6 separate regions of the Homo sapiens genome follow, and regions 2, 3, 4, 5 and 6 are each reported to be linked to region 1. The links are microRNA targets in miRTarBase. Many come from high-throughput screens and were not tested one by one. Region 1 holds a microRNA gene; each other region holds the end of a gene's coding sequence.

Evidence for each region. The annotated mature microRNA hsa-miR-4716-3p reads AAGGGGGAAGGAAACAUGGAGA and lies in region 1 at 2,009-2,030, shown strand. An mRNA with a match to its seed (bases 2 to 7 or 8) in the 3' UTR can be bound and repressed. Matches are read on the target gene's strand: a 7mer-m8 pairs with bases 2 to 8, a 7mer-A1 pairs with bases 2 to 7 and ends in A, and an 8mer does both.
Region 2: the mRNA of MAT1A is a reported target of hsa-miR-4716-3p. Seed matches in the 3' UTR shown: 7mer-m8 at 808-814.
Region 3: miRTarBase lists REEP3 as a target of hsa-miR-4716-3p. Seed matches in the 3' UTR shown: 7mer-m8 at 1,257-1,263.
Region 4: miRTarBase lists GP5 as a target of hsa-miR-4716-3p. Seed matches in the 3' UTR shown: 7mer-m8 at 1,059-1,065.
Region 5: the mRNA of EVI5L is a reported target of hsa-miR-4716-3p. Seed matches in the 3' UTR shown: 8mer at 3,726-3,733, 7mer-A1 at 3,586-3,592 and 7mer-A1 at 3,150-3,156.
Region 6: the mRNA of NEUROD2 is a reported target of hsa-miR-4716-3p. Seed matches in the 3' UTR shown: 7mer-m8 at 3,874-3,880, 7mer-m8 at 3,812-3,818 and 7mer-m8 at 3,230-3,236.

Annotation. Positions count from the first base shown.
Region 1 is chr15:49,166,037-49,171,108 of GRCh38, reverse strand. MIR4716 (microRNA 4716) reads left to right here and starts at 1,956; the gene lies at 1,956-2,039. GALK2 (galactokinase 2) reads right to left here and starts at 862. Exons shown (of 10, transcript NM_002044.4): 1 at 734-862. The coding sequence starts at 786. RefSeq lists enhancers at 675-914, 546-1,450.
Region 2 is chr10:80,269,188-80,274,259 of GRCh38, reverse strand. MAT1A (methionine adenosyltransferase 1A) reads left to right here. Exons shown (of 9, transcript NM_000429.3): 9 at 377-2,440. The coding sequence ends at 479. Among named protein-coding and RNA genes, the nearest start is that of MAT1A, 18 kb to the left of the region's middle. RefSeq lists an enhancer at 123-1,322.
Region 3 is chr10:63,619,920-63,624,991 of GRCh38, reverse strand. REEP3 (receptor accessory protein 3) reads right to left here. Exons shown (of 8, transcript NM_001001330.3): 8 at 1-4,179. The coding sequence ends at 4,123. LOC105378329 (a long non-coding RNA gene) reads left to right here. Exons shown (of 4, transcript XR_001747467.3): 1 at 1-173. Among named protein-coding and RNA genes, the nearest start is that of REEP3, 100 kb to the right of the region's middle.
Region 4 is chr3:194,392,433-194,397,504 of GRCh38, reverse strand. It overlaps GP5 (glycoprotein V platelet), which reads left to right. Exons shown (of 2, transcript NM_004488.2): 2 at 1-2,684. The coding sequence ends at 905. Among named protein-coding and RNA genes, the nearest start is that of GP5, 4.3 kb to the left of the region's middle. RefSeq lists a silencer at 289-338.
Region 5 is chr19:7,862,969-7,868,040 of GRCh38, reverse strand. EVI5L (ecotropic viral integration site 5 like) reads right to left here. Exons shown (of 20, transcript NM_001159944.3): 18 at 4,974-5,069; 19 at 4,761-4,856; 20 at 3,065-4,617. The coding sequence ends at 4,339. Among named protein-coding and RNA genes, the nearest start is that of PRR36, 8.9 kb to the left of the region's middle. RefSeq lists a silencer at 1,284-1,578 and an enhancer at 3,576-4,284.
Region 6 is chr17:39,601,243-39,606,314 of GRCh38, forward strand. NEUROD2 (neuronal differentiation 2) reads right to left here. Exons shown (of 2, transcript NM_006160.4): 2 at 2,526-5,072. The coding sequence ends at 4,209. Among named protein-coding and RNA genes, the nearest start is that of NEUROD2, 4.1 kb to the right of the region's middle.

The DNA.
Region 1 (5,072 bases):
CTCCGTCTCAAAAAAAAAAAAAAAAAGAAAAAGAAAAAGAAAAAAGAAAGGAAGGAAGAAAGAAAAGAAAAGAAAAACAGCAAAAGCAGAGAGTCAGGAAAGCCCTTCGCTAATGTAGCAGGTGACAGACTTCATTTTATGAGACCTCAGCCCCATTAGTCAGAACGAAGTATTTCTACAAAGTACCTGTAACTGAAAAGATCCTCCCCGAGACATCACTAAACTATTAGTTACTGTGTAGCTAGGGACTGCCAGCAAATTAATTCCCTAAGTGACAGTTCAGAGATTCTCGTGTTTTTGTTTTGTTTTGTTTTAAAGAGGATGCAGACACCAAGAAGGTTTTTGTGTTTGTTTTCAATTAATATTTAGAAAGAAGACTTTTAAAAAGCAGTATCAACTGGCATGCGAGACAAAGAGAGGAGTTCAGTGTGGATATGGGCATTTCTGCTGAAGCCCAGTAGAAAGAGTACACTAATTACAACAAGAAAAGGAAAAGAAGAATCTGCATGGATGAAGAAAAAAACATACAACCCTTCGTAGTAGTCAAGGTAGAATGTGTTTGCGGCGTGATCTTTTTTGCAAGCCCAGCCACGTGTCCTTATAGAATCCCAAGGGTTCCACTTGCTCCCCGGGACCAAAAGCAGCGCCCCAAGGGAGGAGCCAAGTGCTGTGGACCCGATCTACACGTAGCCAACCCAGCAGATCCCAAAGCCCGGCGTCTCCTCTCCCCCACCTAGGATGTTCTGCCACCTGGACCCGACGCGTAGCAGGGCTCTCTGTAGCCATATTTCGCTAGATCCTTCTTTCTCCTGTAGTTTCAAGTGTCTAAGCAAAGCTCCCAGAGCAATCACGAGACTTCTGTGACAGGAGCCGTTTTCTTCCGGGAGATAAACAGCTCCCGCCCTGCGGAAATCCTGCAGCTTCGCTGAGGTGGCTGCTTCCAATCGGCCCCTCCTCTGGCTCCTCCTCCCTGGACTCAGCCAGGGTTCCCTCCAAGCAGCAGTCAGGTACAGCCTCCGTCCTGCTCTTAGCTCCCAGGGAGGGACTAGGGCCTCGCAGGAGCCCCTGCGCAGAGCACGTGCGAAGCTGACTAGTGAGGTTTTCTTTTTGCGCCCTGTGGATGTCAGAGAACAGTGTCATAACCTGGCGCCCTACATACACCTAGTTTCTGATCTGTCTCGGGCTGCGTTTTTTTGTTTGTTTGTTTGTTTTTTAGTTATGGTTTTGGTCTTTATTGTTCAGCAGCTACTCCCCAAACAACACTAAAATGTTTAGCTATTGCTTCTTTGCGGATTACTTCCAAATCAAGCAACATAAAATTGATGTATCACTTGATTTAAATAGATTTGCATTTATTTACAGGTTAGAGGCATTGGTGGGCCTTCCTAGAACACAGTAGTGAAAAGACGGAAACACATGCCTTTTAATGTGCAAGACCCCTTAGCATCCAGTTAAACCTCTTCATTTTTCACTTATCTAGAGAAATCCTAGATGCCCTATCAAAAGTACACTATCCCTAGTACATCACTAACTTTTCCTTCCTTCATAGTTCTCCTATTTGCTTATGTATTTATTGTGTCTCTCACCACCTCCATCATCACTACCACTAGAAAGCAACTGGGGGCAGGCAGATTGGTTTTTAATGAATAGGTAAGATAAACTGAATGAACGACGAAAGGTGAAATGATGTGCCTGAGGTCACAGTGATCATTGGGAACAAAACTGGAATTAAAATTCAGATCTATTAACTCTCAATCTAGTGCACTTTGCACCTCAGAAATATTGAGATTAAACCCAAGCAAAGACAGCTAGCAATAAACCCATTCCAAAGTTTCCTGATTAAGGAAGTTTGAGCCAACATGCCCAACACACTAGGGGTAGTAGCATAACTCAGAGAGATTCGATAAGTTGTATACATCAGTAAGTTACTGCTCCAGAATTTCTATATGTATATGCATACTTTGTCTCCATGTTTCCTTCCCCCTTCTGTATACATGTATACAGGAGGAAGGGGGAAGGAAACATGGAGACAAAGTGTGAATGGACAATAAAGCATAGCCAAAGAGTGGCAGCCCCTTGGCACCCCGTTGGGTTATTACTGTAAATGATACATCAAAGAAACAAAGTTACTCTGGTCTCAGGGCAGCTTTCTCACTATTATTTCAGTCCCTCTTTATCATTTTCAAATGAATGAATTATATCTTCTTGTTTCTGGGCCCCAATAAATCCCAGTTTGATGTTCATTTTGGTTTAATTTTGAGTAACAGGAGTCATCACTGTCACTTGTAAATAGTTTTAATAGGGAGATAACCTAAATTTTAAAAAAAAATGTAAAATGTTTAGGGACATCAGTAAATACAGAAAAGAACAGAATCTTTTTTTTTTTTTTTAGATGGAGTTTCGCTCTTTGTTGCCCAGGCTGGAGTGCAATGGCATGATCTCTGTTCACTACAACCTCCACCTCCCAGGTTCAAACGATTCTCCCGTCTCAGCCTCCCAAGTAGCTGGGAATACAGGCAGCCGCCACCACACCAGCTAATTTTTGTATTTTTAGTAAAGACGGGGTTTCACCATGCTGGGCAGGCTGGTCTCGAGCTCCTGACCTCAGGTGATCAGCCCACCTCGGCCTTCCAAAATTCTGGGATTAAAGGTGTGAGCCACCGTGCCCAGCCCAGAATCATTTTTTATTCAGATGTTTCTAATATATTCTTTTGCATTAGTTGAAAAATAACAAATTTTAAAGTTTTGAATTTTTTTAACAGTCCAAAATAAACTCATTTTATACAGGGTTAAAAAAAAATGACTGTAGAAACTGTTTCGAAAAAGAATACTTCCTACTGAATATGTACTTGATGACCGAACATTAACTTTGCTAAATGAAACCAGATGGCAAATCATTAGTTTGGACCTTGGATACATTGCTATTGCAGTCTCAACAAAACCGATGCAGACTAGAAAGCACCTTACAGAGCAATTAGTAAAGCATCCTTTTTTGAAATGATTGGCACAAAGTAAAACAGGATTAACAGAGCTAGAACTAAAACCTAGGTCTCTAGACTCCTAGCCTAGAGGCCATACTACTTCTGAATATGTGACTTTTGTTGAGACCCCAGTAAACTGTGCTTAAAAATAAATTATTGAAATGATTAGAATCCTTGTCCCAAAATAAAATGTGTACATTATAATTTTCATAAAGGATTACTCTTAAAATAACCTGTCCAAACTACTAGAGAACCCCAAATGGACACCAAAAACAAAACATTACTTTCTTATACTACCTTCCTTATACTAGGCATCTTGCTAAGTAAGCACTTTGCGTATATTATTGTCTCTTTAAACCTTTCCAACAATCCTTATGGGATAGAAAAATATTATTTCCTTTTCAATTTCAAGAAGATATTCCTTTAGTTCTTATTAGACATATCTAATAGTGAAAACATTTAAACATTTGGCTGGGCACAGTGGCTCATGCCTATAATCCCAGCACTTTGGGAGGCCAAGGTGGGCAGATCACCTGAGGTCAGGAGTTCGAGAACGGCCTGGCCAACATGGTGAAACCCCATCTCTACTAAAACTACAAAAATATAGCCAGGTGTGGTGGCGGGCGCCTGTAATCCCAGCAGCTTGGGAGGCTGAGGCGGGAGAATCGCTTGAACCCAGGAGATGGAGATTGAGTAAGCCAAAATCACGCCACTGCACTCCAGCCTGGGCAACCAAGAGCGAAACTCCATCTCAAAAAAAAAGAAAAGAAAATATTTAAACATTTATATTTTACAGTATTTTTATTTTCACAAATCCTGAACCTCTGGTTCTTTGCTTTTTGCAAGTAGGCACTCTTACAATAGGTTTAGAATCTGAATTATAAACTAATAAATGGTATATTATGATGGAGTCTTAAACAGAAACCTAATTAATAAACTTGAAATTGTTTCTCCTCAAAGGATATTAGTCTCCATTCAGATAAAATATTATAGCAAACTAAACAAAAACAAAACAAACACTAAAATGAAAGAATACAAAAACTTGATCCAAAATATGAGTTAAAGCATGGGTGTTAGAGACTTACAGACCTGGCTAGTGCCTATTGATGTTTCTCAGCTTAGAAATCACTTCCTTCAGGAAGTTTTCCATGTTCTCTACCCAAAACTAAATGTCTAAGACCACAGAGGGATTGACCATTTATCTGAAATAATGTTATTTCTGTGGTTTAATCTGTTTGTGCAACCTCTGGAAAATATTTCCTATTTTGACTTACAATAAAAACTATTGTTCACAATTGGGAGAATCTACTTCAGTGACCTATTTTGGATATTTTCTCATTATAGTAAATAATATGTAATACTTGTTTATGTCTTCTTTATAATGATGTTACATTCCTTCTTTTTTGTTGTTGTTGTTGAGACCAAGTCTCGCTCTTGTTGCCCAGGCTGGAGTGCAATGGCGCGATCTCGGCTCACTGCAACCTCCGCCTTCCGGGTTCAAGTGATTCTCCTGCCTCAGCCTCCCGAGTAGCTGGGATTACAGGTGCCTGCCACTTAATTTTTGTATTTTTAGTAGAGATGGGGTTTCAACATGTTGGCCAGGCTGGTCTCAAACTCCTGAACTGAGGCCATCCACCTGCCTCGGCCTCCCAAAGTGCTGAGATTACAGGCGTGAGCTACTGCACCCGGCCCCTTATTCTTCTGTTCATAAAATAGATACTGCTCTCTAGTGTATATAATCATTAAATGGCAAAAGATAAACTCATGAATCAGAGAAATCTATATTTATGTAGTTATGGAGGAAATAAAAATTGTGCAAAAATGCTTTAACCGAACATAGATTGTTTTGCAGAGTGAAAAACAAAGCAAAACAAAACGAAGACTCTAAGCACCCTCTGCTTGCCCAGTCATACAAAGCATCACATCAGTACTCTAATTACTTGTTTTCTGTCTAGTCTAAGTTTTTCTACTCAAAGTGTGGTCCTCAGAACAGCAGCATCAGCGTCACTTGAAAGTTTTTAGAAATACATTATCTTGGGCCGGGCGCAGTGTAATTCCAGCACTTTGGGAGGCCGAGGCGGGCAGATCACA
Region 2 (5,072 bases), not on the chromosome of region 1:
GATCTTAGGAAAATAATTATTAATATAAGGCCAAATAGCTCAAATGGCTGGGAATCAAGTCAGCAAGTCTATTCCGTTTCTAGAGCTTAGTGGTGTCAACATTGGCCTGGGCCAGGTAAGTGGAGTGGGAGGAGAAAAGCACCGGAAGGCTGGAGTTAGATCCTGGTCCCTGAACCTCTAAGCATCCGTGGGGCTATAAAACGAGACCAGGGTATGGCACAGATAGGATGGGTGCGCGCAACTGCGGTGGGGAGGCGTAGTGCCATGCGAGGAGGGCTGTGTTACAGTTCGTTGCTCCCTCCTGTCCTTGAAATGGAGAAAGAAACCCTGCTCCTGTTCCATCTTCCAATGCCCTTCCTTTCTGCTGGACATGCAGGGATTTGGACTTGAAGAAGCCCATCTACCAGAAGACAGCATGCTACGGCCATTTCGGAAGAAGCGAGTTCCCATGGGAGGTTCCCAGGAAGCTTGTATTTTAGAGCCAGGGGGAGCTGGGCCTGGTCTCACCCTGGAGGCACCTGGTGGCCATGCTCCTCTTCCCCAGACGCCTGGCTGCTGATCGCCTTCCCCACCCACCAACCCTCAGGGCAAAGCCAGGTCCCTCTCATTTAGCCTGTCCTGTCATCATCATGGCCAGCTGGAGGCAGGGGCTTCCTGGTGCTGGAGGTTGGATCTTGATGTAAGGATGGGCATGGTGTTCTCCTGCTGCTCCCTCAGACTGGGGCAATGTTAATTTAGTGGAAAAGGCACCCCCGTCAAGAGTGAATTCCCTCACTCGTCTCCCCCAACAGCTGGACCCTGACCAGCTCCCCCTCCCTCCCCTTGCCTGTGCCAGGTGAGGTCAGCACATCTCAACAGGCCTCAGGGCTCCTTGTGGGCCTGGGCTCCTGGACCCCCCTTTCACAGGCAGCCAGTGCCCTGAGCCAGGGTCTCCAGAAAGCCCCACCCAGGCCAGGCATGTGGCAGGGGTTAGAGCAGGACTGATGTCTCCTAAGCACCTGTAATGTGCGAGGGACCCAGCTAATAACTGATCTCGTTTTTTCTTCACTGCAACATGATGAGGTAGTACCTTTTATATCCCATTTATAGATGGGGGAAAGCAAAGCACAGAGAGTCTGGATAACTTCCACAGGGTCCCACAGCCACGTGTTTAGACCTAGATGTATAACTAGGAGCTTTGACTCAGGAGCCTGTGACATACCCCCTCCCCCACCGTTGTCTCATGCCAGTAACAGGCTCAAACAATGACAAAGCAGATTCAGAAATGAGGCCATGGACTCTGTCCTGAAGGCCTGAGGTTACTGGAAATTAGGGGATTAACCCACTAGCTCTTGTTGAGCCGTGGGCAATTGTCTGAAAAGTGAAGACAGAACCACAGGGCTATTTTGTTTGCTTCATGTGTCCCAGAAGATGACTGAGGGTGAGTTGGCTTACCTGGCCCATCAGGGTAGGCTGGAGTTAGGGACTGACCAGCAGCTTTAGAATCCCAGCCCCCTGACCACTCAGAGACATGCAGAGATTGGGTTTTTGGACTTCTGGGGTAAGTGGTCTAAGTCCAGTCCAGTCCTATCTGGGCTTCCTGGAGCAGAAGCAGCAACTTGTCCTAGCACAGATGGCCAGCCCCTTAGACAGAGGCCCTCAAGTCTTTCTCTTTCCCTGGTCCCTTGTATCCCCTGCAGGCTGAGTGCATTTGGAGGGAGTGAGTGGCCCTTTCGGATCCAGGGAGGCTGGTCCTATGGCCTCATGTTAAATAGGCGGGGCTTGCCTTCTGGTGTTGGACAAGCTTCTGAGACGTCATGAGGAGATTCTGCCTTTGCCAGGTGACTGTCTGGGGAGCGGGTCTGCTCCCAAGGGGCCTGAGCAGTCCTTGGCCTGCTAAGGTCTTGGAACTTGCCTGCCTTTCCATCCATGGCCAGCAGCACCTGCCCTACCTGCCCCACTTGTCCTTAGCCTGGACCTCTGACAGCAGCATCTCTACCTTCTCCCCAGCTCCCAGGACCACAGGCTCAGGCAGGGGCCTCCATGGGCCCCAGGGGAACACTGGGGACTTGGCCTCTCTCTAGGGTACATGGTGCTGGGAGAGGCAGCCCAGGAAGTCTCATCTGGGGAGCAGGCAGCCAGCATCTGGGCCTTGGCCTGGAGCACAAAGACCCTGGCTTTCATTTTCTCTCAGGTGAAAGGAAATTAAGGCAACAAAAGAAGCCCGGCTCCTGGTCACCTAGGAAGCCTCAGATTCCTTCCCATGGAGGGAGGGAGTGGTTTGCAGGTGGCCAAGTTCCTCTAACTTGGCTCACACTCGACATGAAAATTCAGAATTTTATACTTTCCCTACCCTCTAGAGAAATAAGATCTTTTTTGTCAGTTTGTTTGTATGAAACTAAAGCCTTTATTTGTTAATAGTTCCTGCTAAAACAATGAATAAAAACTCAAGGAGCAACTACCCTATGCTTAGTTATTCTCTGCAAAACCCCAGAGACATGACACCTGCTCTGTATAGCATTCCCTGGTTGCCCACCCCCACCACCGGGGGAAGTTAGTATCCTCCCCTCGGGGTCACCCCATCCTGTCCACGTGGAGCAGATGTCTCATGGACTAGGTTTTTCTTGTTACTAGCAGCTATGTTAAGCCACACCACTGCCATGTTCATTCCTCACCACATCTCACCAAGGTGGATATTCTTAGGAAGCCCATTTTTACATGCGGGGCCCTGAGGCCCCAAAAAGGGTTAGGACCAAAGGCAGTGGCCACCTCTGGCTCCTCCCTGAGTTCTGTGTGCTCTCCTTACGCATTGCTGCCCTTAGGCTGCCTATGCCTTATCTTGTGCCCTTCCTGCATGGTGTCTGCATGAGACTGGCATGAGGGCATGCTCAGGCCATGTCTGGAGTATGGATAAGTGACTGAATTTGAACAAAGTGAAGGAGTGGAGGGGATTGGTCTGTGGAGAGAGGAGCCGAACTTTTAAGTGGATGCACATTTCCCTTCACTCGTGTTCAGTTGTGAAGAGAATAAGCAAATGGTTCTTTTTCATTGAAGGTCATCCCTGCCATGGCCCCCGGTGATGTGGTTCTTGGGGTTTGATCAGAGCAGGAGGAAGATGGGTCCTGCATGGTTTCCGGCAAGCAGGCTGTGTGGACAGGACTCAGCTCTGGGGAATGTCCTGGTGCAGCCTGAGGCAAAGCCTGTGTGGCCCCCGTGTCTCACGGGCAGACAAAGCTGATCTGGGGTGCCAGGAAGACCCAGAATGTGGCGGGGAGGGGAGGGGAGGATGAGGCCAAAGGGCCTCACAGTCCTGTTTGAGACAGAACCTATACCCTGAGAAGACACTAGGTGGGCAATACAATGAAACATGACACATTACAGAGAAAAGCACGTTTCTCAAGAATGCATACAAATAGACACACTTAAGAAACACACTGGAATACTTGCCTGGGGTAGGGGGAGGACTCTAGGTATAACATGCAAAATAATTAGTGAAAGCAAGATAGAGAACCACCTTCTGAGCCACAAAGCCAAGTGTCACAGTGTTAGGGAAATGTGGACGGAGCAAAGGAGGTTGGCAGGGAGCGGCCAGTGGAGTTTGAGGAAACTCAGGAGCACAGAGTCCCTGGAAGTCAGGTGAAGACTGTTTCTAGAGCAGGGGAGCCACCAACTATGCAAAATGGTTTTGATGGGTTACATGATGGGAGGCCCAGGACTGTCCAGTGAATTCAGCCACATGGAGGTTGATGATGTGGGAAATGGCAGAGTCACATTTAAACGTAAATATGACCCCAACCCTCACCTCAATCATCCTCCCCTGGGCCATCTCATGACATTCAGAGTGCGTGCTGGGCTGCACTGCCCTGCATGTCTGTGCAGTGCCTGCCCCCTACCCTCATCCTGGACTCTGCTCCCCACTCCCCACATTCCGGACTCCTTGGCTCTTTGGCTTCCCCCAGCAGGCCAAGCTCGTTCCTGCTCAGGGTCTTTGCACCTGTCGTTCTGTCATGGGTGTGGGGTGCGCTGCAGGTTTCAGATGAAATTTCTGTATTTCCAAAAAACCCCTTCCTTGATAGCCTCTCTTTCTACTCCATTCCATTTCTAGTTTCTTTTTCAGTGTTTAACATGATGTTCCTTGGAGCCTTTCACTTGAATCCTTCCCTACCCATTCACTCTCCCTTCCTTCTTCACATGCGGGTCCTCCAAATCCCTGCAGTCTCAGCTGACAAGCCACCCTCCATGATGCTCCCAATCTCCCAGGAAGATGCTCCCAAGCACCTTCCATAAATCACACCCAATGCTGTCTCCATCTGGTACCGGGCTCTCAAAGGTTGTAGTTCTTTAAATAACTAAATATTTTCATTAATTATTAATAATAATGTTATGGCAATAATTCTATTGCTCACACTCTGAAGATGATGTATCAACCCAAATAAGAAAGCTTTTTTCCCCAGCTTCATTAAGGTATAATTGACAAATAAAAATTGTATGTATTCAAGGTATATAATGTGATTTGCTATATGTATATACTGTGTAATAATTTCCACAATCAAAATTATGAACACATCATCACACACAGTTACTCTCAAAGGTTGGAATTCTTTATGGATGTCAATGCTTGTTTATTTATACCTGTTGCCCCCATAGGACTTGGGGCTTTCCAAGGTCATCTGGCCTTGTCTGCTGTCTCATACTTGCCTTCAATGCAGGGCTTGGCACAGAGTAGGTGCTTGGTGTAGCACGGGTCATATCAGAGAATGAATTTGAGGTGTGTCCATCTGTTCTGCCTCCTGAGCTCTCCTTAGCAAGATATTCTGCAAGATATAAGGATCCTGCTTGCCCTTTGGTAGGTCTTGCCAGGCTCAGCTGCTCAGAGATGTAAATGTCAATCATTCCACAGAGCTGTTTTTTTAAAGCACCTGTTAAGAGCATAGCACTGTGACTATAAGGATTTATACCGTTACAGGTCACAGAGGACTAGAGAGACCAGTATGGGTGAATATAGGAGGGTATTTATTTTAAGGTGTGCACTGGCTCAGTGGATTCACATCCAAAAAGCTGAGCCTTGAACAAAGACTGAGCAGGATTTTTAT
Region 3 (5,072 bases), not on the chromosome of region 1:
AAGTAACACAAAGAAACTTCTTAAAACATAGGATTTCTCTCTAAAGCTTAAATGTGAGGCAGACAGACGTCTAACTTTAAAACAGATGGAACCCCAGAACATTTCCAGGATACATAAATCTGAATTTTGTGTTACATTTTATGCCTGAGACAGCTAACCCATCCAAATTGATGGTGAGGATTTCTGTACTCATTGTTTTTCCTATCTTTCCTTTCTAACATCCAAATTTAACAATTCAGTATTTCTTTTTCATAATCCTATGGATGACCATACCAGAATGTTTATGATTTTCATAATTTGCTCTGTGATCTGTAATCCTAAGTGTGTGCATATATTTAATCAACACATAATAATAAGTAATACCAATTCATGGAATCCAACATATGTACTCTGGCATAAAAAAAGAAACGCGAATTGCCACAAATAAAATGAGTTTATTTTATATTAAAGTTATCAAAAAACACACCTGTAAAATTACCCACATACTAGGCTTAGAGATAGCCTTTTACAAACAGATTATTAAAAATCTGCAAACTTATTTTCTCTTAACTATTAAAGTACATAGATTTAAAAGGTGTTAGAAGGCAAAATGTTAAGTCATGGTCAATGTCTTAAAAAAGAGTTAATATAATTAAATCTGTAGCATACTACAAAAAGATTAAATCTTAAAAATATTTTGGGAAAAAAGCTATAATTTTCTTTCTGAAAAATTTAATCTTAAGTGATATTTACTAAGAAATATATACTGCAAACCACAATAACAATGATCTTCTCAAAATTTGCCTAATTGCTTCACAAATGAGTCAACTTACAAAGAAGAAAACACAGAAAATTGCTTTTAAATATATAACTCCTTAATTTTCCTGATAATCAAATGAAAATTTAGTCCATCCCAATTAATACAAATTAGACTCATGCTTAATGTAAGATATCATTATATATTTCTTAACAACATAAAAGTTCAAGCATTTTTGGAAAGCACAGACTGTGTTATTCTAAAAAAGGAAAAAAAAGAAAAAAATATTTAACCACAGAAATTTGGAATATTTATATACTTTATAACACTGTAGAAATCTTTGGTGGTGACATATGGAATAAGATCCCTGAAAATACTTTAATCATTTTGTCCCATCAATCAGTGTAGTCAAGTATTTATAATCAGTAATTTTGGCAGTATAATTTTTTAGCCAAATACACACACACACACACACACACACACACACACACACACACACATATATATTGTGAAGTATGTGAGGGGGATCTTATGCAGGACCTAGGTGGGCTTACATAATTAATTATTTAGCAATAAGGCTTATTTCTGGCTCCTTTTTATACCAGGAAAAAATATGGTAAACTAACGAATGGGTCAATTCTTACTCCTAAACAAACTCTGGAAATAGTTAAATACTAATGGACAAGTTGAGTAAATGTACAGCAAAATAAAATACCAGCTGCAATTTCTGTATAAACTCAAACATCTACCAAAATAGTTCCCTAAATAGGTTTGTGCATCTAATCCCGTGCTCCATGTGCTGGCAGAGGAAAAAGCAAGGCACTGTGGTCTATGGATACATTTACCTCTTTTAAAACCAGTAGACTTAAAAGGAGAAACAAAAAAAGATCTGTTCTACCTTAAAAGAAACAAAAATGTACAGGCTAATTAGACAAAGTTCAAAGAAAAGGGCCCCGCTAAAACACATGTACAGGAAAAGAACCAAAATTTAAGAAATGTAGAAGAGAAAGAAGAGTAAAATGATATCAACAGTGTATAATGATGTAAGGAAAGATATCAGAGGAAGCACTGTGAATGTGAAAAAGTGCAGTTAAACAGGACTTGTACTACCTCTTTGAGACTATCTTTGATAAAGAATTTTGAGTCTAGAAGTACAGAGTAATAAATAATTTCTTCAATTTAGAACAGTAATATGAGTTTACTAAAGAATAGGTTTAATACTGGGACCAGACTTTAGAGAGATAAAATGGTGGCTGGGTGCGGTGGCTCACGCCTGTAATCCCAGAAGTTTGGGAGGCCGAGGCGGGCGGATCACGAGGTCAAGAGATGGAGACCATCCTGGGCAACATGGTTAAACCCTGTCTCTACTAAAAAGACAAAAATTAGCTGGGCGTGGTAGCACGGGCCTGTAGACCCAGTTACTCGGGAGGCCGAGGCAGGAGAATCGCTCGAACCCGGGAGGCAGAGGTTGTAGTGAGCCGAGATCGCGCCACTGCACTCCAGCCTGGTGACAGAGCAAGACTCCGTCTCAAAAAAAAAAAAAAAAAAAAGGTAAAATGGTGCAAATCAGCTCCCACAGATAAAGTTCTTGACTCACATGACCTTATTAGGCAACTTCAGATGATACTGTCTTTGAGTAGGAAAGACAAGGACAGTGTAACAGTTATATTAAGAAGTCTAGTACCAGGTCATATAAATAAAACTCTGTTCCGATAATTTACAATTAGAATTCATAGAAATTTGGAATAGAAATTAGAGTCCTTCCAGAAATTAAGAGGCTAAAAATTAGGGTAAAGTAGATAGAGTTATTCAGAATTAAACGTTGGGAGAAGAAAACTGAATTAATTTTACTTGTTATATATGAAGAATGTGAAATAATCCATAAAATATTTTATGACTAGTATCATGAGACAATGTATGCATTATACCAAGGTACTCCTGTGTAAACATTATGTTCTTGGCCAATACTCTGAGGAAGTCCTGAATATACATTACCAGCTGGCTTCATTTCTTAAAAGGGAGACAGATCAAAGACCTCTCGAATCTCTCTCATCATTTTATCTTTTGGACAAACAAATAGAACAGTCAAGTAAATTACCTGAACAAGCATAATAAGTACAAATTTGATTACTGATCACTAAAACCACCAAAAATATATTGACTTAGGGTTCATAATGCATAGTTATCAGTTCAAGCTAAGAAAGCCTTAAGAATTCAATAACTCAAAATCTCTTTGAGATTTAAAGTTAAAAAGTAATATGTTTCTAATAATTTCTAATGTGCAGGATTAATGACAACTGTATTTTGCATTGGCAAATTATCTCAGCCAGAAGAGATTCAAATGATTTTCGTCAATGCCAGTTTATAAACTAGCAGCACATGTCAATGCCAAGCTTGTGAATGGATTGGCTGAGAAAAATTATATGAGTTAGAAGGGATCTAAGTGCTATACTGGTCACTGATTCTATTTCACAAAAGCTACCATTTTTAAAAGCTGAAAATGTAATTGGTGTTGACAAAAACATGTTAAGTTCAATTACTCTGTATAGCTAAATATAGAAAATTGGTTAATGTTTAAAGCAACTTCTTATTTGTTAAGAAGATAATTAAAAATAGTTAAAACTGAACAATTAGCTATACTTTTATATTATTAAAATCCAATGAATTTAACAAATGAAACCCACAGGAAAAGAGATGATATAATTCAAGGCATAGATTTGACATGTCAGAATACGGCAAAAACAATAAAGATAGCATCAGTAAAACAGTTGTAAAATAAGTAAACAATTTTCAAGTGTGCAAAACTAGTCAGGAATAAAAGTGCTATGTGTGGATACCTGGTTTTCAAATATTTGTTTCAAAAACTTTCAGCTGATGGTGGAAAAACTAGAAAGTATTATATAAGTAAAAATTTAAAGAATATATAAAACCTACTTTATTATCTTACATTATGTCCTTGTTATGTCACTGCTGAATCTGAGGCCTATTTAATTACCAGATACAACACAAAAGGAGGTAAACACAGTACATCACAAAGGCTGATTTATCCTGAACCGTAAAAAGGCTCCTTTCAAGTATACTGTGGATTTGTGTTTCATCTTATATCTCAGGCACTCTAGGCTGTTGATGAATTTGAAAACGGACAACATGATTTTCTATAATTTCTAATATACATATTTAGTACATCTTGCAGAACTGCCTTTAGTAGTCAATATTTGGAAGCAATTGTTACAGAAATAAAAACAATTTAAATTCATGAAAGTAAACCCCATCACTGCCACAATTTAAATAATCATTTTAATGTGTAAATCCTGAATATATCATGTTAGAAGATGAAGTCGATGTATTTAGCATAATCTGTCTTGGGATATTTGACGTGTAGATGACTAAAAATACACTTGTGGTCGTTTCTTCACTTTGTATTTTAGTGACCCGTACCGCACCTGAAGAGAGAAATGTTTTATTATTAAGAATTAGATGATTACTTTAAAAAATTACATCAGATTTAATAGTTCATAATCATAGTAATTTTTTTACCTTTTTGATATAAAGAATGAATTCTCTTAATAAATGTATATAAGACAGCACTACTTATAAACTCATAAAAAATGTAGTTGGTAATATTTAGATATATGTTACAGATTATTACTAATAACATAAAAACATTAATCCTATTATTTATGTTTTGCTTAGTACAATGTCAATGAACATTGATTATAATGATCAGAGGCCATTCACAGTCCTCCACTGCTTTCTGGGTATAAAGACAATATGTTATTATGGTTAACTGTTTACTATTTAATCTTCATGTAGCATTAGTTGAAAGCAAAACTGTGTGGTTAATTTTATTCATTGCTTTCTTTGTTTATGCATAGGGCTGGGACTGGGTATTTGAACTATGTGATTTGCTAAATGAGAATGCCATTTTCTACGTATAGCAGAAGATTAAGAGTTTACCATTTTCAAAATTTCCTGATATCCTGATACATTGATCTGAATAAAGAATTTTAAATATAAACTGCTGGCCAGGTGAGGTGGCTCACGCCTGGAATCCCAGCACTTCGAGAGGCGGAGGCGAGAGGATTGCTTGAGGCCAGGTGTTCAAGACCAGCCTGGGCAACATGGTGAAACCCTGTCTCTACAAAAAATGAAAAAATTAGCCAGGTGCGGTGGCATGTGCCTGTAGTTCCAGCTACTTGGGAGATTGAGGTGGGAGGACTGCTTGAGCCCAGGAGTTTGAGTGAACTGTGATTACGCCACACTGCACTCCAATTTGGTTGACAAAGCAAAAAAGCTCTATCCCCAAAAACTAAAAAAAAAAAAAAAAAAAAAAAAA
Region 4 (5,072 bases), not on the chromosome of region 1:
CGCTCTTTCTTCATTCGCACAATCTGACTCTGTTGACTCTGTTCGAGAACCCGCTGGCAGAGCTCCCGGGGGTGCTCTTCGGGGAGATGGGGGGCCTGCAGGAGCTGTGGCTGAACCGCACCCAGCTGCGCACCCTGCCCGCCGCCGCCTTCCGCAACCTGAGCCGCCTGCGGTACTTAGGGGTGACTCTGAGCCCGCGGCTGAGCGCGCTTCCGCAGGGCGCCTTCCAGGGCCTTGGCGAGCTCCAGGTGCTCGCCCTGCACTCCAACGGCCTGACCGCCCTCCCCGACGGCTTGCTGCGCGGCCTCGGCAAGCTGCGCCAGGTGTCCCTGCGCCGCAACAGGCTGCGCGCCCTGCCCCGTGCCCTCTTCCGCAATCTCAGCAGCCTGGAGAGCGTCCAGCTCGACCACAACCAGCTGGAGACCCTGCCTGGCGACGTGTTTGGGGCTCTGCCCCGGCTGACGGAGGTCCTGTTGGGGCACAACTCCTGGCGCTGCGACTGTGGCCTGGGGCCCTTCCTGGGGTGGCTGCGGCAGCACCTAGGCCTCGTGGGCGGGGAAGAGCCCCCACGGTGCGCAGGCCCTGGGGCGCACGCCGGCCTGCCGCTCTGGGCCCTGCCGGGGGGTGACGCGGAGTGCCCGGGCCCCCGGGGCCCGCCTCCCCGCCCCGCTGCGGACAGCTCCTCGGAAGCCCCTGTCCACCCAGCCTTGGCTCCCAACAGCTCAGAACCCTGGGTGTGGGCCCAGCCGGTGACCACGGGCAAAGGTCAAGATCATAGTCCGTTCTGGGGGTTTTATTTTCTGCTTTTAGCTGTTCAGGCCATGATCACCGTGATCATCGTGTTTGCTATGATTAAAATTGGCCAACTCTTTCGAAAATTAATCAGAGAGAGAGCCCTTGGGTAAACCAATGGGAAAATCTTCTAATTACTTAGAACCTGACCAGATGTGGCTCGGAGGGGAATCCAGACCCGCTGCTGTCTTGCTCTCCCTCCCCTCCCCACTCCTCCTCTCTTCTTCCTCTTCTCTCTCACTGCCACGCCTTCCTTTCCCTCCTCCTCCCCCTCTCCGCTCTGTGCTCTTCATTCTCACAGGCCCGCAACCCCTCCTCTCTGTGTCCCCCGCCCGTTCCTGGAAACTGAGCTTGACGTTTGTAAACTGTGGTTGCCTGCCTTCCCCAGCTCCCACGCGGGTGTGCGCTGACACTGCCGGGGGCGCTGGACTGTGTTGGACCCATCCGTGCTCCGCTGTGCCTGGCTTGGCGTCTGGTGGAGAGAGGGGCCTCTTCAGTGTCTACTGAGTAAGGGGACAGCTCCAGGCCGGGGCCTGTCTCCTGCACAGAGTAAGCCGGTAAATGTTTGTGAAATCAATGCGTGGATAAAGGAACACATGCCATCCAAGTGATGATGGCTTTTCCTGGAGGGAAAGGATAGGCTGTTGCTCTATCTAATTTTTTGTTTTTGTTTTTGGACAGTCTAGCTCTGTGGCCCAGGCTGGCGTGCAGTGGGCCGTCTCAGTTCACTGCAGCCTCCGCCTCCCAGGTTCAAGTGATTCTCATGCCTCAGCGTTCTGAGTAGCTGGGATTAGAGGCGTGTGCCACTACACCCGGCTAATTTTTGTACTTTTTAAAGTAGAGACGGGGCTTTGCCATATTGGCCTGGCTGATCTCAAACTCCTGGTCTTGAACTCCTGGCCACAAGTGATCTGCCCGCCTTGGCCTCCCAAAGTGCTGGGATTACAGGCGTAAGCCACTACACCTGGCCCTCTTCATCGAATTTTATTTGAGAAGTAGAGCTCTTGCCATTTTTTCCCTTGCTCCATTTTTCTCACTTTATGTCTCTCTGACCTATGGGCTACTTGGGAGAGCACTGGACTCCATTCATGCATGAGCATTTTCAGGATAAGCGACTTCTGTGAGGCTGAGAGAGGAAGAAAACACGGAGCCTTCCCTCCAGGTGCCCAGTGTAGGTCCAGCGTGTTTCCTGAGCCTCCTGTGAGTTTCCACTTGCTTTACATCCATGCAACATGTCATTTTGAAACTGGATTGATTTGCATTTCCTGGAACTCTGCCACCTCATTTCACAAGCATTTATGGAGCAGTTAACATGTGACTGGTATTCATGAATATAATGATAAGCTTGATTCTAGTTCAGCTGCTGTCACAGTCTCATTTGTTCTTCCAACTGAAAGCCGTAAAACCTTTGTTGCTTTAATTGAATGTCTGTGCTTATGAGAGGCAGTGGTTAAAACAGGGGCTGGCGAGTTGACAACTGTGGGTTCAAATCCCAGCTCTACCACTTACTAACTGCATGGGACTTTGGGTAAGACACCTGCTTACATTCTCTAAGCCTTGGTTTCCTGAACCTTAAAACAGGATAACATAGTACCTGCTTCGTAGAGTTTTTGTGAGAATTAAAGGCAATAAAGCATATAATGACTTAGCCCAGCGGCCTGCAGGCAATACATGTTAATGAATGTTAGCTATTATTACTAAAGGATGAGCAATTATTATTGGCATCATGATTTCTAAAGAAGAGCTTTGAGTTGGTATTTTTCTCTGTGTATAAGGGTAAGTCCGAACTTTCTCAGACTGGAGGTTACATTCACATCAGTCTGTCTTCCCCTGCGGATGGCCTCAGCCCTGGGTGGCCAGACTCTGTGCTCACAATCCAGAGCAATGGATCCTCCAACACCACCAGGTGGATGTGGAGCAGGAGAGCTGGATCGTGGCATTTGTTTCTGGGTTCTGCAGCTGTGGGAGTTGGTTTCTGGGTTCTCCATTGGTCTACTTGTCTAGTCCCATACCAGACTCACGGTCTCCATTATTGGAGCTTTAATAATTTTTGGTATAGGGTCATCTCTCCACCTTGTTTTTCTTCTATTCTTGGTTCTTTGCAATTCTATGAATATTTCAGGGTCAGCATGTCAACTCCATTGAAAAACCCTGCTGGGATTTTAATAGAACTTACAGCTCACGCCTGTAATCTCAGCACTTTGGGAGGCTGAGGTGGGTGGATCACAAGGTCAGGAGTTTGAGACCAGCCTGGCCAAGATGGTAAAACCCCGTCTCTACTAAAAATACAAAAATTAGCTGGGTGCGGTGGCAGGTGCCTGTAATCCCAGCTACTTGGGACACTGAGGCAGGAGAATCACTTGAACCCGGGAGGCGGAGGTTGCAGTGAGCCGAGATCGTGCCACTGCACTCTAGCCTGGGCGACAGAGCGAGACTCCATCTCAAAAAAAAAAAAAAAAAATTGCAGTAAATTTAAAACTAATTTGGGGAAGAATCTGTATTTTTTACAATACCTAGTGTTCTTGCCAGTAAGCATGGTTCATCTTCCCATTTATTTACGTCATTTTAAATCTTTCAGTGATGTTTTAGAATTTTTTTTATAAAAACCTTCACTATAAGAACAGAAAACCAAACACCGCATGTTCTCACTCATAGGTGGGAATTGAACAATGAGAACACTTGGACACAGGGCGGGGAACGTCACACGCCTGGACTGTCGGGGGGTGGGGGGCTGGGAGAGGGATAGTGTTAGGAGAAATACCTAATGTAAATGACGAGTTAATGGGTGCAGCCAACCAACCTGGCACATGTATTCATATGTAACAAACCTGCACGTTGTGCACATGTACCCTAGAACTTAAAGTATATAAAAAAAAGAAACCTTGCACTGATTTTGTTAGATTTATTCCTAGGTATCCTTCCTCTTTTTTGATTTGTCATTGCTATTGTAGATGGCATCTTTTTAAAAAGTTATATTTTCTAAAGAAAAAAATAAAAAAAGTTGTATTTTCTAATTTTTATTACCAATATATAAGAATGTAATTTATTTTTACATAATTATCTTATGTCTAGTAATAATTCTGATAATTTGCTTCTTCCTATTAAAACCTTACACCCATTATTGATTTATTTTTCTGTTTTAAAATATCTTCCTGCACTGGCTAAAACCTCCACTATAATGTTGAGCAGAACAGTGAGCATCCTTAGAACTATCTTGGTTGCAAAGGGTAGGTCTCTAATGTTTCATCAATAAATGTGATGTTTCTAGTCTGAGTTTGCTAAGTATATTTTAAAATAATCAGTAAAGTTAGATTTTATCCATTTTTATCTTAACTATTGAGATGCTCATATCATTTTTCTTCTTCAATGTGTTAAAATGGTGAATAAATTTATAGATTTTGGAAAAGTAAATTCATTCTTGCATTCCCGAAGTAAACCAAGCCATGCTATGTGTATTTAAAATATATTGCTGAATTCAGCTTGCTGTTTTGTTTAGAACTTTTACTATCTGTTCATTAGTGAGATTTGCTTATACATTGAAAATAATATCCTTGACTGGTTTTGGTATCAGGTTATACAGCCTCATAAAGTGGGTGGGGACGTTCTCTCTGGAATGGTTCGTAAAAACTGGGATCATCTTTTCCTTGAACGTGTTGTAGAATCCCCTGGAAAACCTTCGTGGCCTGGTTTTATTGTATGTGTGTATTCGGTATTTATTGTTGCATAACCAGTACCCCAGATCTTGGTGGTTTAAAACAATAAAATACATTACGTCACAGTTTCTGAGGGTCAAGAATTTGGGAGTAGTTTAGTTGAGTGGCTGTGGCTCAGGGTCTGTCATGAGGTTGCCATCAAAATCTTGGCTGGGGCTCTAATCATCATGACTGCGGCTGGAGGATTTGCTTCCGACATATCCCGCTCACGCTGTTGGCAGTTCCCTGGTGGCTCACGGCAGGCAGCCTTGGGTCCTTGCCATATGGACCCCTTGAGTGTCCTCATGACATGGCAGCTGGCTTCCCCCTTTCGTTCTTCAAAGAATTGTGGGGTTTTTGGCTTTTTTTTTTATAAGATCTAAAAAAGAAAAAATTAACATTGATCTATATGTTGCTTGAGCTAGAAGGCATAGGAAAACAGACAACATATATCCATGAAATTTCTCCCAAATATGAGGTAAAAAGATGAAATCTTTAGATAAGTTGTAAGTCTGTACAAAGAAGCTAGATTTACTACTCTCTAAAAGGTGAAGGGACCTGCTATATAAAACACAGAAATAATTTAAT
Region 5 (5,072 bases), not on the chromosome of region 1:
TTTTTATTATTTTGAGACAGAATTTTGCTCTCTTTGCACAGGCTGGAGTGCAATAGTGCTATCTCGGCTCACTGCAACCTCTGCCTCCCGGGTTCAAGCAATTCTCCTGCCTCAGTCTTTCGAGTAGCTGGGATTACAGGTGCGCGCCACCACACCCGGCTAATTTTTGTATTTTTAGTAGAGACACGGTTTCACCATGTTGGCTAGGCTAGTCTTGAACTCCTGACCTCAGGTGATCTGCCCTCAGCCTCCCAAAGTCCTGGGATTACAGGCGTGAGCCACCGCGCCTGGCCTGACACACTTTTCAAACTCGATGCGGGGAACTAGCACTCCTGGGGAACAGGTGGGAAGATTGGAGGGCACTGAGGCAAGGATGGGGGACCCCTTCCCATGGCCCTTCGGCTGGTGCAGGGTCCCGGGCCAACTGCCCTGGTAGGGGATTGCAGGAAGAAGTGGCCTCTCCCAGGTCTAGGTGGGAGATGGGGGAGTCCTCACACTGCACCCTGTCTCCAAGTGTCCTTACACAAGTGCCACTTGGTGCATCCCACCCCCATGGCATCCTTGCCCTAACCCCTTCCTCAGGCGTCCTTATCAGATTCCCAAACATCTTCACAGGCCCCCTCCAATCAGAGTTTCCTGCCCTTCCTCCCCCAATGAACCCTAACCCTAACCCCCAGCTCTGGAGCCTCTCAAACCCTAGCCAGTCTCTCCCTGTTCCCAGTGCCCCTGCAGAGAGCTCCCCTGCTAGGCCTTTCCTCCCCCGGGTCTCCTGCATGGCACCAAGAATGATGGTGACATCCCCAAGTGGGTAAGAAGACAGAGTAGGATCTGGCCTTGGGCCCTCAGCCCTGCCTCTGCCCCTGGACCCAGTACCCTCACACCATCCTGTGACCAGGTTCCTGTCAGTCACAGACCAGCAAGTCCTGCCTGTCCCCATCCCAGACAAGGCACCTCCTAGCCTGGGGTCTGAGGAGAAATGGGCTCTGGCCTGGAGGGGCACTGCCACCTGCACCCCTGGGAGGTGGAGGAGGAGGACGCCAGCACAGTCCTTCGGTCAGAGTTTTGTGGCAAACCATAGAGGTGTCCTCTCAAGCTGGGCCCTGGTGGGGTTGGGGACCTGGGTGTCTTTGTTTCCAGACTCTGGGACAAGCCCAAGGCCGACTCCTGACATGCTGGGGAGCTGGGGCTCAAGGCCAGCTGCCGGGAAGGACAGGGCAGAACCTCAGACAATTCCTCTGCGGTCCTGCCCTGACCTGGGCAGCCAGCGGGGGTGGAATTACCATGGAAGCAGGAGGCACGGACAGTGACTGTGAGGGTCCCCAGGGTTACATCTGCACCATGTGTGGCCAGGAGAGCTGTGGCATGTGATACGACAGTACATGGGACTTGGCTGTCTCAGTACACAAGCAGTGTCATGTCCTTTGCTTGGCTGTGAGGCATGGGGGTAGGGAGCACTTTGTGGACCCACACTGGGTGCAGAGGGCAGGTCCTGGCTAGCATCTGCCTGAACCCAATTATGTTTCTGCCTCTAGGGGCTGCGCACCGTGTCTCCCGCCTGTAATCCCAGCACTTTGGGAGGCCGAGGAGGGCAGATCACCTGAGGTCAGGAGTTTGAGACCAGCCTGGCCAATATGGTGAAACCCAGTCTCTACTTAAAAAAAAAAATACAAAAATTGGGCCGGGCACAGTGGCTCATGCCTGTAATCCCAGCACTTTGGGAGGCGGGTGGATCACCTGAGGTCAGGGGTTCAAAACTATCCTGGCCAACATGGTGAAACCCCATCTTTACTAAAAATAATACAAAATTAGCCAGGTGTGGTGGCACATGTCTGTAATCCCAGCTACTTGGGAGGGTGAAGCAGGAGAATTGCTTGAACCTGGGAGGCAGAGGTTGCAGTGAGCCAAAATCGCACCATCGCACTCCAGCCTGGGCAACAAGAGTGAAACTCCGTCTAAAAAAAAAAAAATTAGCCAGATGTGGTGGCAGGCGCCGGTAGTCCCAGCTACTCAGGAGGCTGAGGCAGGAGAATCACTTGAAACCAGCAGGCAGAGGTTGCAGTTAGCCGAGATCGTGCCACTGCACTCCAGCCTGGGTGACAGAGTGAGACTCCCTCTCAAAAAACAAAACGAAACAAATTAGCCAGGCACGGTCGTAGGTGCCTACAGTTTCAGCTACTCTCGAGGCTGAGGCAGGGGAATCACTGGAACCCAGGAGATGGACGTTTCAGTGAGTCGACTGCCTTGAGTTCCTCTAGGAAGCTTTGCTTTGCCACTCCTGGCTCTGTCCTCCACCCCGCCACCCACCGCCACCCAGCAGCTGGGACTCTGCCTCAGCTCTGTGGGGAACCCCACAAAGGACTATTTCTGCCCCCTACTCACTGTCCTCCCTGCACTGGCCCCCTCACAGACTCTGTGGTCCATCTGATGGGGCTCTCTTACCTAAGCCCTCCATGGGCTCCCAATGGCCCCCAGTTCAAAGCCCAAACTCCCTCACCTGACGTAAGCAGTCCCTTCTTAGTCTGACCACGCCCAGGCTTTCCTGTTCTTCCTTCCTAGGTATGGTATGCCTCCTGTTGGTCTGATCTTTATGCTTTTACCCCTCGAAGAGGCCCTGACACCACCTCCCCCAGGAAGCCTTCCCTGATCTCCCTGCACATTTGTCTATTGAGCACCTACCACATTAGTGCAGGCTTCCCCCTGCCCAGTGCCTGTCTCCTCTGCTCCACTGGAGACCCCCTCAGAGCCAGGCACAGGGCAGAGTACCCCACATTACCCCTGGAGGCGTGAGCAGAATGAATGCAACCGGGTCCTGTGCTTCCTGAAGCCCAGCGATTCGGCATGCCTCTCTCCTTCAGGGGAGGCCCAAGTTGATTCACCCAGGTGGGAAATCATGCCCTGCCCCCAAACTGAATGCCCTTCTATCCTCTCCCACCCCCATTCTATGAGACTGTGGGGAGCTCCTAAGGGCAAGGACAGCCCCACCTTCCCTCAGCACGGTTTTTGGTCCCTGGGCTGGGCACCCACCGCTGCTTGTGATTCTCCTCCCAGCCCGCAGGCCAGTCCGTGACTGTGTAAATACACTTTATTTTCCATTTTTCCCGCCTGGGCGACATGTGAACAGGCAGTGTGCAAAATGGTGGCGGGCAGTGTAGGGGGCGTGTGGAGAGCCCCGTGGGTGCCTGCCCCGGTCCCCAGGCTTCGTAACACTGAAAAGTGGGCAGCTAGGAAGCGGGGACGGAGCAGGGGTCCCCACCCAGGAAGCGCCAGGGAGATTGCTTGTGACGCTACTCTACTGGAGGCTCCGGGAGCACCGAGGGGGGCAGCCCCCAGGGTCATGAGGCCCGGGGGGCCGGGGGAAGGGAGGAAGGGGCCTGGGGGGCATCGTTGGATTTTGGCACCGTTCTCAGCTCTGATTCAGCAGAGACAACGGGACCACCAGGAGGAAGTGAGGGGAGGCCGCTCGCTGGGAAGCTCCTGCCTGGGGGCCTGGCTCTGGCTGAGGGTGGGGCTGGAAACACATGAAGAAAGGGAAGTAGATGGAGACCGAGGACCCCTGTAGAGATACCCCTCCATCACTGGCCAGGATAGGGGGCGCGAGTGTCTCCCAGAGAAAGATGTGGGGCACTGGGGAGAGGGGTCTCTTCACTTCCTGGAAGCTGCTCTGGCCCCAGAGAAGCAGGGAGGCTTCCCGTTAGCCACTCAGTCCCCAGGCGCCCCGCACATAGTAGGGGGACTTTGGTTTCCGCTGCAGGGGCCACGGTGCCTGCGCCAGGCAGGAGAGGCCGGCCTGGCCATCTGTCCCCAGCGGCCTGACTCCCCTAGAGATGGCCAGGGGCTAGTCAAGGGTCACTTCATCCCGAGGAGTGTTGTGGGGTGCTGATGTCCAGCCCAGAGCTGGCGCTCTCCTTCCTCAGGCCTCGGCTACCTCCTGAGCACTTCCCAGCAATGTCGCCCCTGTCCCAGAAGGAAGCCTGCCAGGAGGTGGGAGCTGCCTGCTCATTCAGTGCTGGGACCTCTGGGTCGTCTGTCCCCTGCCCTCTGCCCTCCTGTTAAGAGAGCAGTCAGCCCCTCCAGGCACCCCTGGAACGCCAGAGGGCCCGGAGGGGTACAGACCAAGATGGGTAAACACTGCTGGGGATAGAGAGCCTGCCCCGGGGCCCTGAGGAGCCCAGGTCGGACCCTACCCTCTGCGCTGCCTCGCCGGGCCTCGCTTTAGGGGTGGCCGAGCCACAGAGGGCGCGTAGTTTGTCAAGTGCGGCAGGTGGGGAGCAGAACGCGGACTGCCCGGGCGCCCCCCGCGGCTGCGGCCTCCTGACTCCGGGCGCGCTGGGCATGGCCTCAGTTGTCCAGACCCTGGCTGTAGGGCGCGGCCAGCTCATCGGCGTCGCTGTCTGAGCTGCCCTCGCTGTCCTTGGCCGGCCGCTCCAGACGGCGGAAGAAGCGCGCATCGCGCGGGGACAGAGGGTACAATGCGTCCTGCAGGGCAGCGCCCACGCCTACGCCAAGTAGCTCCTCGTCCGACGACGGCAGCGAGTCCTCGTCCAAGTGCCGCGCCAGGCTCAGCCCATCGAAAGCCAGCGGGTCCTCGAAGGGCGGCGGGCCCTTCAGCAGCCGCACCTGGGGCGGGGGACCGGCGCTGCAGGCGTGGACCGGCCTTCTGCCCCGCCCTCCCAGCCGCATCCTCCGCAAGGCACCTGCGCTCGGCTCGTCCCAGGCCGACGACACCCAGGCCTGTCCCCGGCATCCCCGCGCCGGCTCACCTCGGCCTTCAGCTCCTCGATCTGGTCCTTGAGCTCGCGGATGTACTGCGATGAGTCCGAGTGGTTCAGCTGGCCCTGGATGCGGCCTTCCTCCCTCTGCGGGGTGCGCCAGGTCACGCGGGGCCAGTGCCATGCTGGGCCTGGGGTCCGGCCCCGCTCCTGCCCCGGGCCCTGCCCCCGCCCCCGCCCCCCGACCCCGGCCCCGCCGATCACCTGGATCTCCAGCTCGGCAATGCGCTGCCGCATCTCGGCCACCGCAGCCATGCTGTCCGCCTCCCGCAGTCGCACAGCCATCACCTCCTCCTTGCTCTG
Region 6 (5,072 bases), not on the chromosome of region 1:
GGGTTGAGCTGAGCCGGCTGGTGGACGCTTGGAGAGCCTGCCGCTGAGGCTAGGGCAAGAAGGGCGTCCTCTCTGTGCCTTCTCCCCAGGCCAGGCACAGCGCTGGCCCCTTTCCTCCTCCCTCCCCTGCTTCTGTTCTTGGAGCATCTCTGGGTGTGTGTGCGCAGGCGGGAGAGCAAGCAAGAGAAAGAGACCTGCGAGGGGACGTTTGGGGCCGCTTGTCCGCGCACATCTTCTTCTCCTGCTCATCACACCATCTCGCCAGGGAAGTTGAGCACTGGGGAGGAGGGTGATGAGAGGCTAGAGCCAGCCAGAGTGCAGGGAATGTGGGGGGAAGGGTCAGAAATCGGGAAAGGGGCGACTGGTGTGGATGCCGGGATTCACCAGAAGCTGAGTCACTCGGGGGGATTTCTGTCCCAAAAGGGACCTGTGCACCCCCACCCAATGTGATCACAGCTCACAGAGGCCCAAAAGTCATCAGCATCTTTCTAAAAGGGCTGGAATCTGGCTTCAAAAACAGAATTGAGCCACGTAGGGTAGCTGAAGAACAATGCATAGAAAGAAGTCTGTGGTCTGGCCAGGAGAGCCACATGGAGGGGTCCTTTGCTTCAGGCCCCAAGCCACCTGGATCCCGCCCAGCTCTGGACTTCTGAGCGGGTTCTAGGAAACTGACTGAGTAGGGGAGAAGCCCAATTAACCTTGTTCTCAGGGCAGGATAAGAATCAGGCCTCGGGATAAGTGCCAAGTTCCTTTTCTCTGCAATTGCCCCTGCCAGGCCTTGCTCCACGCCATGAGTGCAGATCAGACTTTTGCAGGTTAGGATCTGGGGTATGTGCCTTGCTCTACACTCCCTGCAATAAGTGAGGGGGAAGGAAGATGGGCCAACTCCTTTCTTCCATGAATAGGAGTGATTCAGAGGTTTCTAAGATGCTGAAGACAGGGACACATCCGGGGGATGAAGGCCCTAGTCTGTGATCTCACTCTAGAGAGGCGATGCCGGGAGAATTCCAGAGAAGGCAGTGAAATTTTGAAAGAATGCTGGTAAATGTTCTGAAAACTGCTGGAGAATTCCAGTGCAGCATTGGAAAGGGCCTCCTGCTCCATGTTCCCCTGGGTCAGGCAAATGGACCTCCCTCTGCAGCCAGAAGAAAAGACACTAGACGAGGGTCAGCATGCCACAGTGGACAGCTCCTGGCCTTGGCGCCTCTGCCGACAGCTGTCCTGACCACCGGGAGGGTATTCTTTCTACTGGGGGACAGAAGAGGTTTGAGGACAGACATTTAGGGGATGCAATGAGCTCAAGTTCAGAGTATAATTTGATCCACCCTTCAATATATAGGACTTCCTTCTTCAACAATCTTTCCCTTTCCTGCTTGTCAGGGAGATATTATTTTGGGTTCTTGGACCCAATCTTTAAAAGCCTTTGCATGCCTGACCTTAATCCTCAACCCCAACACTACAAACCCCACTTCAGCCCTAAAATGAGTCACAGTGTTTGGAGAAATCATTTAAATGAGCAGCATCAGAAACAGCCTCTTTGGGGGACTCCTAAATGTGTTCAGGCTTTAGGATGGGAGTCTTTGGGGCTCAGAACCCTCTTCAAATATTCTAGGGCTACAGCATGCACTGAGGGCTGAGCAGGGGGAGTAGGAGGGACTCTATCAGGGAAGTCAGTTAAGAGCTGCCCCTGCCTCTCAGGTTCAGAGAAAAAAGAATTGTGAGGCCACATTGTCTGAGCAGGAGATGCTCACCCAGTGCCCTTCCTCCCTTCTAAGCCCTTAGGGTTCCCTCTGTTCAGAACTGTACCAGACAGGAAGAAATCAGCCCAGATTTGGACTGGGTGGGCGCCTGCTGCCCTGTCCCAGGGAGTACATGGTTAGGCTCCTCTCTACTGGGTGGGCGCCCAGACTCAGCCACCTCACAGACCTCTAGGGGTGTTCCTCCAACCTTGTCCACACCCCTAAACATGTCAACATTCCTGAGACCAAAATGGCCGATTCCCCTGAGTCCACCGAAATACAATTTTAAGATGAAAAAGGGGCCTCCCTCATTAATATTTCATCTTCATGACCTTATAATGTTTTGTTTTGTTTTGTTTTGTTTTGTTTAAAAATACCCCTGTCTGATTCAAATGGTTGTCTCTTTGTCTCTGCCCACTTGCTTTTTGCAACAGTGGGCAGAGAGTTGTAAAATGACTGGCTGTTCCCAACTTGATCATTTTTCAGTGATGAAAAGGTATTTTGTTTTCAAGGGAGGTGCCTGTGCATGTTCAGGAATGAAGAAGTGTAAGGATATCAGTGCTTTAGTGCTGGGAAGGTGCGAGCCTGGGTTGGGTCTGGGAGGGGTAGCTAGTATAGCCCAGTGGGTGTATGGGGGGTGGTTAGGGAGAGAATACTACCCAAGAATGTCCAGGGTCCCTCTGTTTGGCCTCTGCACAGTCACTTGACACTCTGCCTTCATCACCCCAGCCCCAGCTCAAACCTTCTCTCCCCCCTCAATGAAATGAGGCCACCGTGAGAAACCGGTCCGGCTTTGCATCTCATTTACATAAATATTTATTAATCGTCATTAAACTGAACAGAAACACGCAATGCACTTCGGGTGTCCGACGGGAGTTTCATCTTCGCTACAAGAGGAAGGTAAAATTGCGTGTGTGTGGGTGAGTGTGTGGGTGTGTCGCCTGTGGGATTGCATTTTTGCATCGTGTATTTGGATGCCTGATCCCCTGCCTCCGGTGGGCAGAGGGTCTCCTTTTGCCCCTTTTTGGGGGAACCTCCAGTAGGAGCCCTCAGACCTCTCCCCGCCCACCCACCAGCTAAAGCCAAGAGGACTCCTTGGACCAAAAAATACTCTCTCCAGACACCGGAAATCGCCAGGTGGCACCCACCGAGGCACAGTCCGGGCAGGGGTGGGGCTGCCCCCAGGTCTCCATCCCCACCCCTCACCCCAGGAGGGGACAGAATGGCCGCGGGGAGGAGGAGCCGGCGAGCTCACCTCCTTCTGCCCCCCGGACGCCGGCGCCGGGCCTGCTTGTGCGTGCGGTGTGGTGTGCGTGTGTCTTTCATGCAAACCCTCCCTCCCCAAACCGACCCCCCAACAGTTTGCCATTCCATACAAATTTGGAAACAGGTTTTTAAAAAACAGCATGACGCACAACGGGGACGGGGCGGGGGAGGGCAGTGGCACTGGGGCCCCAAATCTCCGAGTCACTGATTGTAAGAACCTGGGGAGGGGGAGGGGGCGGCGCGGGCCCCCACTTCACCAAAGTGCACAGATCCGCGCTCGGGCGGGGCGGCCCGCAGGCCGGGCGGGGCATCCCGGGGCCGGGCCGGGCCGCGAGGCTCAGTGGAGCCTCCTTGCATAGATATTTGTGTCTTTGATTATTGGTAGTAGTGGTTTTTTTTTGTTTGTTTTTTTGTTTTTTGTTTTTTTTGCCTTTTATTGCTTCTAAAAGTCCTTACTGCGTTTTCTCTCCGATCCGGACTCTGCGTTCGGCTTCCGTCGCCTCTTAGCTTTTTTTTTTTTTTTTTTTTTTTTTTTTTTTTTTTTTTTTGTATGTTTGTTTGTTTAAAAAAAGGAAAAGGGAAAAACGGATTCTAGTTACAAATTGTCTTGGCCTCTCTCTTTCCTCTCAATCCACTTCCCCTCCCGCCAAAATTAAAATCGCAAAACGCGGAGACTGGAGGTTGGGGGTGAGGGCGTTCCAGGCCCGGGCTCCGGCGCCCTAACTTCTACCCTCTTCAAGAAAGAGGGAGCGCCTGGCTCCTTTTTGCCTCGGCAGCTGGGTGTCTGTTTTTAAAATAATAATGAGAGGGGGAAACGCGTTCCATTGCTCAGCTGCCCCCTTACCAACGCCTTGGGCCTGCAGGGAGGAGGGGGAGGAGGAAACCTCAGCGAAGATATTGGGAATGGGGGAGGGGTGCCTCCAGGGAGCCCCCGGAGAGAGGTCCCTGGAGAAGCACTCCTTGGGAGAGAGGAGGAGGGAACCCCTTGGGGAGAGAGAAGGCGAGTCCCCTGGGGGAAGCGAGGCCCCTGGGACAGGCCACCCACAGGTAACAGGACTGCGCTGCCCCAGGAGAGCGGCAGGACCGGTGGCCCGCTCCCCGCGCCCGGCGCCGGGGTAGGATGGGGGTGTCCCTGCGCTCTGGGGGCTGGGGACAGGGGGGCGGGCAAAGGCAAAAGAAAAAGAAGGGAGCCGGCGCGAAGTCTCAGTTATGAAAAAACGCATTGAGCTCCTCGTACATGGGGCCCCGGTCGTGGTGAAGGTGCATATCGTAAGACAAGAGATTCTCCGAGTGGACGCCCCCGCGCACAGCCGACGAGCCGAAGACTAGCCCGTGGCCCGTGGGCCGCGAACCGGGCAGCGCCGAGTAGTGCATAGAGTAGTGGTAGCTTTTCTCGTGGTCGGGCGAGGAGTCCTGCTTGAGTGAGAAGTTGCCATTGAGACAGAGCGGGGGGCTGAGCGGGCCCTCGTACTCGGAGCTGTTGTAGTCCGGGCTCGCGCCGCCACCGCCTGCCGCCGCATACAGCGTCTCGTAGGCGGCGCAGTAGCCGTGGGTCCGCAGGGCGTGCGCCGCGCCGCCGCCCAGGCCGCCGGCCGCCTGGCACTGTGCGCCCGCCAGGCGCGAGCACGGGTACGGGTAGGGGTGCATGGCGAACGGGCCGCCCGAGCCGTGGAAGCGGCCGGCACCGTCGGCGCCTTGCTCCGTGAGGAAGTTGCGAGAGTTGAGCTGCAGACAGCCGGCCACCAGATTGGTGGTGGGCTGCGACAGACCCTTGCACAGAGTCTGCACGTAGGACACTAGGTCTGGCCGCTTGCCGGAGCGCAGGATCTCCGAGAGCGCCCAGATATAGTTCTTGGCTAGGCGCAGCGTCTCGATCTTGGACAGCTTCTGCGTCTTGGAGTAGCAGGGCACCACCTTGCGCAGGTTGTCCAGGGCTGCGTTCAGGTCGTGCATGCGGTTGCGCTCCCGCGCGTTCGCCTTCTGCCGCCGAAGCTTGGAGCGCTCCAAGCGCGCCTTGGTCATCTTGCGCTTCTTGGGCCCGCGCTTCTTGGGCCGCTCGCCCTCCGC